2 separate regions of the Homo sapiens genome follow, and region 2 is linked to region 1. The links come from fine-mapping of genetic effects on gene expression. Tissue or cell type: whole blood. Region 1 holds a variant in brackets; the other region holds the start of a gene. All regions are shown on one strand. Distances are between the middles of the regions.

Region 1 (5,379 bases):
ATCCAGCCACAGACACATGCTGAGGAGCTGTTCAGTAGTGGGTCCAAGTATAGCAGATTCAGATGAGAGTAGGCAGGGCAAGCAGGCAGCAGGGATGGCATGTCCCAACAGATGGAGAGGACATAGGAATCAGGTCCCTGAGAGGAAACAGTACTCTGGAATCCAGACAGTGCGGGTATCAGGGATGTCAGTAGGGAGGAGGGCCTCAGTCACCAGCCCAGGAAGGGCTAGCCAGAGCCTGGAGAGCACCCACTCCTGGGAAAGGAGAGCAGTTCTGGGTCAGTTACCAGAATGGAATCTGAGGCACAGGGTCAGTCAGCAACGGAGTGCGAGCTGAGGGCCAGACTAGCGGCCAGGAGGGCTTGGTGCTGGGTGATTCCTGAAACTGGGGGTAGTCATTCCCTTCCTTTGTTGGGGCAGACTTGGGCTTGGGGGCTGGTGGGACTACGCTTGAAGTGAGAGGGCAAGGAACCCCAACTGTAGGGAGCCACAGCCTGCAGGGGATAGGAAGTCAGCAGCCATGGTGCATGCTTCTTTAAAAAGCAACCGGTTAGTTATTCACAAGCCAGCGGGAGACAGATTGTCAGATAATGTCACTGTCTCAGTGAGAGTCCGGTCAGGAAAACAGAGGAGGTCCAAGAGAAGGAATTTAGCACAGTGAACTCATTACAAGTGTGTTGGATGAGCTGGAAAACAGAGATGGGGACACAATGCAGAGATTAATCACAACAGGAGCCAATACAACCCTAGGCTAGAGGGACAAAGCAGGAGTGGAGTTGGCAAAGCTGGGTCCACAGGGAAGGCTGCTTGGCAGGAGCTGAACCCATGGGAAGTGCGGCCCCTCTGGAACCCCTGCCCAAAGCAGCCACCCACCTGAGCATGCTTCCACTGGGTTAGACCTCACTGGAACCTGTTGGTGGGGGAACCTGCAGGGGAATAGATCAGTCCAGAGCAAACAGGGAAATGACCAGTGCACACACACTTAAATGAGTGAGCAATGCCCTGAGAGTGACAGCATAGAAGACAGAGTCTGACTGAGTCCAAGGAAATGATGAGCAGGCTTTCCAGGAGCTACCCAGGCCAGGCTTAGAGAGAATGTGACACCTCTGGTGTGTCTGGAGCACAGATTTGGGGTTGTGGGGATGCTGTGAGGCTGGAGAGGCAAGTCAGAGCCAGACCCTGCCAGGCCTTGAAGGACAGGTTTTTATCCTGAGAGTAGTTTGGAGAGCCACTGGGAGTTTTAAACAGGACAGTGATGAGATCAGATGTGAGTTTGGAGATATTTCTCGGGTTGGGATGTTGGACATGAACTCTGCTGTGAGGCACTACAAGTTTCTGCTGGAAGGAGTGCATTTCACTCCCAAAACCGTGGCCACTAGCTGGTGTTCCTTCTGGCTCACCCAAAGTCACACAGCTAGGTACAGCCATCAGGATTCCAGCACAGGCCTGCAGGTGCCCACAGAGCCTTGCAGATTGTGGCTGGATATCAGTAAGCCAAGTACCTTTCATTAGACCCGCTCAAGGTTGTGCTACTTCTAGAAGGGTGTTTTCATCATCTTCTAGCCCATTGGTAGGTCCAGCAACACTGGCAGGAGTCATGAAAATGACCCACAACCCTGACTGCACGTTAGAATCACCTGGAGAGCTTTAAAAAATACTGACGCCAAGCCCCCCAACCCAGACCAATCACATCAGGGTCTCTGGGCATAGGCTCCACAGCTACATTTTAAAAGCTCCCCGAGTAATTCCAGTCAACATCCACAGATTAGCGCTTCCTCCTCCATGAAGAGGTTCACATAACTCTTTTGAAGAAGGCACCAGAACATGATTCACTTCTTGCAGATCAGAAATTGGGGGAAAAACGGGGAGGTTATGTGTGGTCTTTTTCCAAATTTCTATAGCTTTATGCGACGCTAAGATTTCCTTCTAATTGGAGAATTAACCTGGGCCAACTCCCCAAACCACTCACTTAAAAGATTTTTCATATTCCTTGTATTTTACAAACTCTTCAGTCTAAGCTTAAAGGAAACAATCTTATTTATTCCCTCTGTAATATTTCAAAAGACTTGTGAATTTAAAAAAAGAGGGAATGGTTTTTAAACAAAATTATACATGATCTTCCCTCAGAAGGAAAAAACAAGTGATATGACTAACACTGGACTAAAAAGAACACAAAGAGGCCCTATCACCACTCTGCGAAGGCCAGAAAGGAACAGGAAACCCAGTTGGCAAGGGTGGTTCCCCACACCACCCCT[G/GA]CCCCCGCCGAGAGGAACGCAGCGCCCTCCTTCTTTCCTCTTTTTCAGAGTCCCACTTGGATTCCAGGGAGGATCACAAAGGGCCCCACAAGTCAAATTCCTTCCCTAGCTGGGTGGTGCAGCTCTGCTGGGCGCCCTCCTTGATCCCCCACTCACCACCCTCAGGATCTGCTGGCTGGGCTGTGCCTTGCACTCAGCGTGAAGACTTTCCTCATTGAATCTCACGATTTTTTGCTTTTGTCTCCAGTACCTAGTACCTAGGGGGTACCACAGCCCTTTTGGAAGCACCCTGCTAGGTTGATCACTTCATACTCCTCCCTCATCTTTGTCTCAGTCCAAAGTGGTGCCTGAATCTTTAAACATAAAGGGAATCTGGGGGGGCAAAGCCAAGAGGCTGGGTTAAGACAGAACTGGATGCCATTTTCACTCTGAGTCTCCTCAGCTGAAGTCAGTATGAACCAAACCCTACGGTTCAAGTTCATAGCAGCATGTAGGGAAGCTGGAACTTACACCTAGTTGCTATGTGACTCCACAGCCACCTTGCCAGCTTAGGTAACTTGTCCAAAGCCATACAGCTGGGAAGACAAACCTGGGTTCCACCCAACTCTGTCTGCGCTTCATGATGTTTTCTTGTTGCTGTTTCCACCCACACATTCATACTTAGCCTAAAACAGAAAAGTCCTTACACAGAATTCTTTGAAAAGGAATGTCCTAAAAGAGGGTTTCTACTTCTGGGTAATTAGATCTGAAGGTGAAGATCTCCTCCAGCTAGGAATCCAAGAACGAGGAACAGTTTTTCCAGATATGAAAATCCAGGAGCTACTATTTTGTTGCAGTGTCCACTTGTTTATTCTAAAAAATCAACAACTACTTTCTTGGTCATATTCAAAGCTGTAGGTGTGGGCAGAGGGGCTGGTGAAGGTGACACAAAGGACTGTGGTAAGGAGCTAACCCCTTGGTGCATGACAGCCAACCAGTGCCACCAGCAGAGCCCGATCGGAGCCAAAGGGGAAGTACAGGTGGTAAGGGCTACAGTCATTTACTTTCCCTTTACCCTTTTCTTGCAGACCTAAGCAGCAACGCTATGGGAAAGGAATCATAGCCCATGCCACCCCACAATGCCAGATAAACCAAGTGAAATTCAAGTTTCAGTCTTCCAACCGAGTTTGGAAAAAAGACCGGACTACCATTATTGGGAAGTTCTGCACTGCCCTTTTGCCTGTCAATGACAGGTAAGCCCCAGTATTCACCTCTGCACCAGATGCACTCACACATCAAAGACCAGTCTTGGCATTAGATGTGCTGCCTATTGAGGTTCAATCTCATCATAGTGATTATCATCTTAGAAGCAGAGATGACAGACACCCGGTGTTTTCCAGAACCTCCTGTGGGACCATCTTGGGTTGGGGAAATTCCACTGTATTTGTTCTGCATATTTGGTTTCTATGTAAGATTTTATTAGAACAAAGTTTTCTCATTGCATATTTTCTCCTCTGTGGCCTCCACTCCAACTGTGTCATGGGTCACATTCATGGGTGTGGATCCAGAATCCACATCCCCTTTCCCTTCCTCTAAAGGCATTTATGTCATTAACCTTACCACCCCTGGGCACTTGGACCACAGGAACTGGCTCTTAATTGTAGGTGATTGCAGATTTCTTTCACCAGACATCATGGGAATTCAAAAGCCACACAATGCCAAGCCCTGTCTCCTCACCAGCCACTGCTCTCTTATTGCTCTTCTCTTCCAGAGAAAAGATGGTCTGCTTACCTGAACCAGTGAACTTACAAGCAAGTGTGACTGTTTCCTGTGACCTGAAGATAGCCTGTGTGTAGTTTAACCTGGGCAGGACACATCTCCCTGCATTTTTTTTTTTTTTTTGAGAGAGAGGTGTGATGAGGGATGTGTGTGTGCAGCTTATTGTAGACCATTACTACTAAGGAGAAAAGCAAAGCTCTTTCTTATTTTCCTCATAATCAGCTACCCTGGAGGGGAGGGAGAACTCATTTTACAGAACTTGGTTTCCTTTGCCGATCTTATGTACATACCCATTTTAGCTTTCCCATGCATACTTAACTGCACTTGCTTTATCTCCTTGGGCATTCGTACTTAGGATTCAATAGAAACATGTACAGGGTAAACAATTTTTTAAAAATAAAACTTCATGGAGTATCTGAATCATTTAATTGTTTTACTTGAATGGAATTCTGTTACCTACAAAAAGTTGAGATTTATACTCTGTGGGATTGGAGAAAACAGTATTGCATTATCGGTATTAAAATAGCAACTAAAAGAAGTACTTGGAAAAAGAGAGGGGATGAAGGGTAGGGAGGAAGATGGCACCATTTACCAACCCTTACCATTACCTCCTCTGGATATCTGGAAGGTTTGAGGGATCAGAGAGATCTTGGGGAATACAGGTAGATTTCCTCTGGGTTAGTGTTTCCCAAACTTTGATCTTTGTAAATAACCTTGTATCAGCCGCAGCCCAGCAAAAAACAGATGGTGCGCTCAATCTGGGTTATTTGAGGAGAATTTAAGAAAAGGACAATTTGCCATAGTCTTTTGTGGGGCAACCACAGGGATAATGCAGTTCCCTGAAGCTACTGGCAGTAGAAGCTGCTACTACCCTACCTGTGAAGAGGCCAGAGAAGGAGGGGAAGCACCAGAAGGCTGCAGACCTGCAGTGCAGGGACACAGCCAGCCAGCAGCAACCCCGCAGGGAGGGAGCAGAAGCACAGGTTCTCTGACTTCACTCTTCTTCCTCTCCCATTTTCCTGCTAGTGCTCCCCATTAAGGACCCCCAACAGAAGCCAGAGGACAAATAACACATTGACATGGCCTAACCAGGCCCGGGGCATACAGCAGGACAGAGAAGGTTGGAGAGTGGATGGGAAGGGGGTGCGGAACTAACAGATATGGCACACGCCTTCACCACTTTCCCAAATCCAGGTTGCCTCGGATTCTTTTATTCTTTAAATTCACTTTTTAAAAAACATAAATAAATGAGCTTTAAAAGGAAACTGCTGACTTGCTGATTCACTCTCCACAATGAAGACAGGGAGAATGATGTAAGCAACAGGCTGCAATTACTTCATCTGGGCCAAGTCAGCCAGGGCACTGA
Region 2 (5,379 bases), 32 kb after region 1:
ATGGATGATCTTCTCCTAAATGAATAGCTTAGATAGTTAGTTGCCTGCTCAGGGGGTTGTATATATGGAAGTTTGTGTTTTGAATTTTATATGAGAGAAACGTCTAAGTTAAGCGCTGCTTAACAGGGTGATAGACTTTGAGAAAGTCACTTTCCCTCTCTGAGTTTTGAAAGAGATTGGTTTCCTTTATTAAAACAAAACAAAAAGACTTCTGAGGTTTGAGTGAAGGACTCTAGAGAACAGTGTGCATGTGAGATGTGGAAGTCTGCACAAGAGTCCCCACTTCCTGGCACAAAGTTCTTGTCTGCTGCTTTGAGATGTTTGGTCCCTTACTGTAACCAGCCCAAGGTTCAGTGATTCTCCTTTAAAACTAGAGCCCAGTCATAGACTAGAAGCCTTTTCCTCTATGTCCAGCTCAGCAAAGCTGAGACAGGGTGACACTGAAAGATAACAAAACTCTTACTCCAAACCTTGAAAGGCAGGAAAAAAAAAAATCAAAATTGTCTAATTTCTGACTCAGCCTTTTGATGCTAAGTATACCAGGAAAAGCTACACCAAGGGCAAGCCCCCCTCTCCCCTTCACTGGGAAGTGATCTTATACAAGTTCACAGTAAATCTATCCTAACTGAACTATACAGTAACCATACATGCTTCCAGCAAATGGGCACCCTACACTGGAGGGAGCACTTCTGCTGCTCTCAATTTCCTCCTTTGAACAGACGAGCTATAACATCATGGGTCTCATGAATGAGCAAGTTCCCTAAATTGTCTTTAAGCATGGAACTATAGGTGCAAACATTTTCACAATAGTTATATGTATTTGTATTTACATCTATATCTGTTTACAAATAATCGCATTGGTTTACACTTTCAGTTCACCAATAAATGAAATGAAATGTACCCTCACAAAATGTCTCCCCTCCTAGCTCACTCTATCCAGGACCTCTGAGTTCAAACAAAATCAAAACATATATACATGATACTTCAGGTTCTATAAATGAATACACAAACACGTATTATTACTATTAGTGGTAGTTGTAGTACCATTAGCATCATTGTCAAACTTTTTTCTCCATTGTGTGGTTGGCAGTATTATCTGGATTTGCTTTTTTTTTTTTTTTTTCTTGGAATTGGAGCCTTCTAATTGCCATCTTACCTTTTCTATCACATTCTCCTGGTCTCAAGAAAGCTGGTGGAGTGGGGGTTGTGGGGCTCAAGAGCCACTAGGGCAGTATAAAAAAATCCACAATTGCCTACTAAGTGTGTAGCACAGAGCCCCGTGATGTTTTCTCAGAAGAAATCAATGCCCAACATTCACATCCAGGTTGACTGGGCATACACTGATCCTGACTAAGACCATTTCTGCCCATATCTGACTGTCAGCCTTCTCCAAAAGAGGCGGTGCTTCCACAAAAGCCTTGATGAGATAGGTGTATCACTTCTCTTCTCCCATTGTTGGGCCCTCAGATTTACAGTACTGTACTTGACTTCTTAGTCTTCAAGAACCTCAATAGAACAACTGGAAATGGAAAGGTGGGCAAGGGGTATTCACTCTCCCTACCTGGCTACATACAGCTACCCCAAACACAAGTGGGGCTGTTTGCTTGATGCCTTGGCAGGGAACAGGGGTTATGAGAACCACCCCGCTATCCCGACCTCCCATTTCTGGCATTGTTCCCTGAATACAGTTGGTGCTTAGCAAATGTTGAATTTGAGTAAGGAACAGATTAACCTTATTGAAATGTTAGTTTTTCAAAGCTTACAGAGATATTGCTGCAGCTTAGGCATGACACACTGATATGTGTGTGGTGATGGTAGAGGGGTTATTTAAGGCCCAGGCTCAAGACACACGCACTGCACACCTTCCAGCAGCAAGTGCACATACAATCATTCTTGCCAACCAAGATGCCTCATGAACTGGTTTCTTCTTGGAAAATGCCAAGAAAGAGGAAGCAACCCCACTCTTAGAAAAATCTATTTTGGTTTGTTTGACTTGTCACATCCTTCCCTCAATGGAAGGGGACACGAAATGGAAAGGGACATGAAATGGAAAGGGACACACTAGGAAATGAGAAGTGTGGGCTGGGGAAAGAAATTCTGGGCAATGGATAGAGTAGCTTACCGGCCAGAGAGCAGCAGGGACAGGCGGTTGATGGGTGTCTCACCCTCCACAGCATAGGTCTGTTCAGTGGCCAGAGTTAAGACCTGCTCCTCGCAGCAGTGAACAATCTCCTTGTATGTCTGTAGGGGCACCTGCAAGGGCAGGCACAGCGTCTTGTAGAGGAGGTCAAACTCCTCAGGGAGGGTGTCCTCACGCAGGCGGTATACCAGGTGTGCCAGCTGGAGCAGGCAGACCACAGCCAGCAGGAAGCTCCAAAGAACAATGTCCAGGCCACAGGCACTGAACCAGCCCCACAGCACGCAGCACAGGTAACCTGCACTCAGGAAGCCAAAAAGATAGAAGCATCCATACACCCCACTGCCCCCCATGAAGCCCAGGAGTAAGAGGCAGTTGGCTAGGTGGTAGACAGCCCCTTCCACATCCTGCTTCCACCTAATGCACGCTGAACCCTGCAAGAGAAGCTGGCCCACTCTGCTGCTGTTGGCGCTCATCTTTGGGGCCTCTCAAAGCCTCACTGGGCTCTAATACTGTCCTCACATAGGAAATTCAGAAAATGAATGAATCCATCCGCTCAGGGGTCTTCTCACCTCCGGCTTCTCACTACCGACTCCACCTTTCCTAGAAGGAATGCTTCCGGTGGCTTTGGGAAGGAATGATGGAACATAGTACACTTCATGGAGAATTTAAAAACCTCTTTCTCTCTCTCTCTCTCTCTCCCCCTCTCCCCCCCTCTCTCCTCCCCACCACCCCCGCTGTCTCAGCAAGGCTCTGGCTCTCCCTGCAGAGCTCTGGCAAGCTTCCTTGGTTCCATGTTTCTTGGGAGTCTTCAAATTTGGTTCTTAGCAGAAAAACCTAAATAGTCCCAAGGGAAAGTAGCACTACAGGACTGAAAAGTCCAGCAGCGTGGGATGATGCGGCCACATCCTGCTCTCTGTTTTTCCCAAGCAGAATGAGGAGAGCCAGCATGGGAGGCACATTTGTGTTCCATTTGGAATGTGTTCTCTCTTGGCACCGGAAGAAAGGGTGACCCCAGATGGATACCATGTTTGGAATTGGAATCCAAGAGGTACTGGCAGTGAGAAAAAACAGGCCAGGCACAGGCAGCCTGGCAGAGCACTTAACATACCTCCCAGAGGACAAGATAAGACCTCAGGGTCAGAGAGACAGACAAGGAGAGAGAAAGGAAAAGTGAGCACAGAATTCACCTGAACACCTCAGGCAGGAAACTGTCCCGAGCTCCCTTTGGGGAGAGCCAGACAGTGCTTCTGAGTGAGGACACATCAGAGTAGGAAAGTATGGGACTATTATCAGAAAAAATCCTAACAGTGAAAGCTGGAAAACCCCCTGAAGGCCTTTATTAAGTCACACTGCAAATATCATTATGTATTTATTTGACATCCATTTAACAAAAGTAGCTATGTAAAGTGGCTTTTTGAATTCTAAGCTGGCTTTCCCCTGCATATATCTGGATCTGGTAATAGTAAACAAATAATAATACATTGCCCAGATCATCATCCCACCCACTCCGGTGCTTCCAAATTATAATTCCCACCTATTAAACACCCATGAAGTGCCAAACCTAGATTAGGCATTTTATACACTTATAAGTTAGTTGTGACAACAATCCTTCAAAATAAATATTATTCTCCTTCTAGATCTGGAAGAAACTGAGGCTCAGAGAGGTAACAAGCTCCCACAGATGGTCTAAGTGGCAGAGCCAGGATTTGAACCCAAGTCTGTCAAACTTAATACTCTGTCCCAAGGGGTTTGCCAGTAAGTGGAAGTACAGTACTAGATCCATGACTCCCAACTCCACACTTCTATGAAGTCTGACAATTTTCAAGGAACTTCTGGTTGAACCTAGGAATCTACTTTGGGCTGCCAAGAGATAAAGCTGGAGTATGCAAACATTAGGCTAAGAAATGTTAGTTGGGCACAGTGGCTTACGCCTATAATCGCAGCACTTTGGGAGGCTGAGGCGGGTGGATCACCTGAGTGAGGCTGGAGTTCGAGACCAGCCTGGCCAACATGGTGGAAACCCTGTCTCTACTAAAAGTATAAAAATTAGCTGGGCGTGGTGGCGGGCACCTGTAGTCTCAGCTACTGGGGAGGCTGAGGCACAAGAATCTCTTGAACCTGGGAGTCAGAGGCTGTGGTGAGCCAAAATTGTGCCACTGCATTCTAGCCTGGGTGACAGAGCAAGATTCTGTCAAAAAAAAAAAAAAAAGGAAGGAGAAGAAAGAAGGAAAGAAGGAAGGAAGGAAGGAAGGAAGGAAGGAAAGAAAGAAAGAAAGAAAGAAAGAAAGAAAGAAAGAAAGAAAGAAAGAAAGAAAGAAAGAAAGAAAGAAAGAAAAAGAAATGTGACTCTCTGGATTCCAAATGACTCCTTGATTCTTCCTCCCTGCTGCTGGGTTAGCACTTACTCCCATTACTCCTATCGCCCCTGAAGTACAGGCGGGGTGCTCAGTAACCTCCCAGAACTAATCAAGGACTCAATTCATAAGGACTTTTACTATACTGCTATAACTTGATGAAAATTTATGAGAAATTCAAAATTGTCAAATATGGTGAGAAGGAGATGTTTTCACTCAACAAATATTTATTGAGTGCCTTTTATGAGCTAAGCCCTTGGGCATCAAAGATCCTCAAGAGAAACTTTCACCCTGTTAGGGTAAAGAGACCTCAAAAAACAAAGGCAGTTCAGTATGTGAAGCACAACAACCAAGTTAACTTTGAAGGATGGTGGCAGCCTAGAAGGAAGGGTGGCATCAGGGAGGGAAGATGCAAAGAAGGGCTGGCCTCTAATTTGAGGTTTAGGGGTTGAATTCACCAGGCAGGTAGAGGGAGAATAGCATTTCTAGTGGGGAGAACAGCATTTCTAGTGGTGAGAACAGCAGAAGCACGGGCACAGAGGCATGAAAATGCATGGCATGTTGAAGGAAGCCAGTTTTTTCTTAACCTCATTAAAATCATCTGACCAACAAATATATACCTTATTTCCTCCTTTCTAAGTTAAGAGGAAAAAAATCAGTAAAGAGCTAGAGTATTTGGAGAAGAAATGTCACTGAGGTCACTCCATGGACATGATTTGGACCCCTGACATCATTTTAACAGTGGGGTTTGGGGATTTCCATATACTGTTTTTACATCACTTGCCTGCCTCCCAAACAACCCCCCTACTTTAACAAGCAGCAGCTGCTCATCCTTCTATCACAGACATGCAGCCCCTGAGCTTCCAGAGTAGCTGTCCCTGCCAG

Evidence for each region. PIP is the estimated chance that this variant, and not a neighbour inherited with it, causes the effect.
Region 2: POPDC2 starts here. The variant in region 1 is the best candidate, but not a certain one, in a credible set for the expression of POPDC2 in whole blood (TOPMed, PIP 0.55).

What each region holds. Positions count from the first base shown.
Region 1 is chr3:119,625,379-119,630,757 of GRCh38, forward strand. It overlaps PLA1A (phospholipase A1 member A), which reads left to right. Exons shown (of 11, transcript NM_015900.4): 10 at 3,323-3,487; 11 at 4,006-4,433. The coding sequence ends at 4,090. Among named protein-coding and RNA genes, the nearest start is that of PLA1A, 30 kb to the left of the region's middle. The variant G/GA (reference allele first, on the strand shown) is at 2,256.
Region 2 is chr3:119,657,811-119,663,189 of GRCh38, forward strand. POPDC2 (popeye domain cAMP effector 2) reads right to left here and starts at 2,779. Exons shown (of 4, transcript NM_001369919.2): 1 at 2,123-2,779. The coding sequence starts at 2,613. RefSeq lists an enhancer at 5,034-5,083.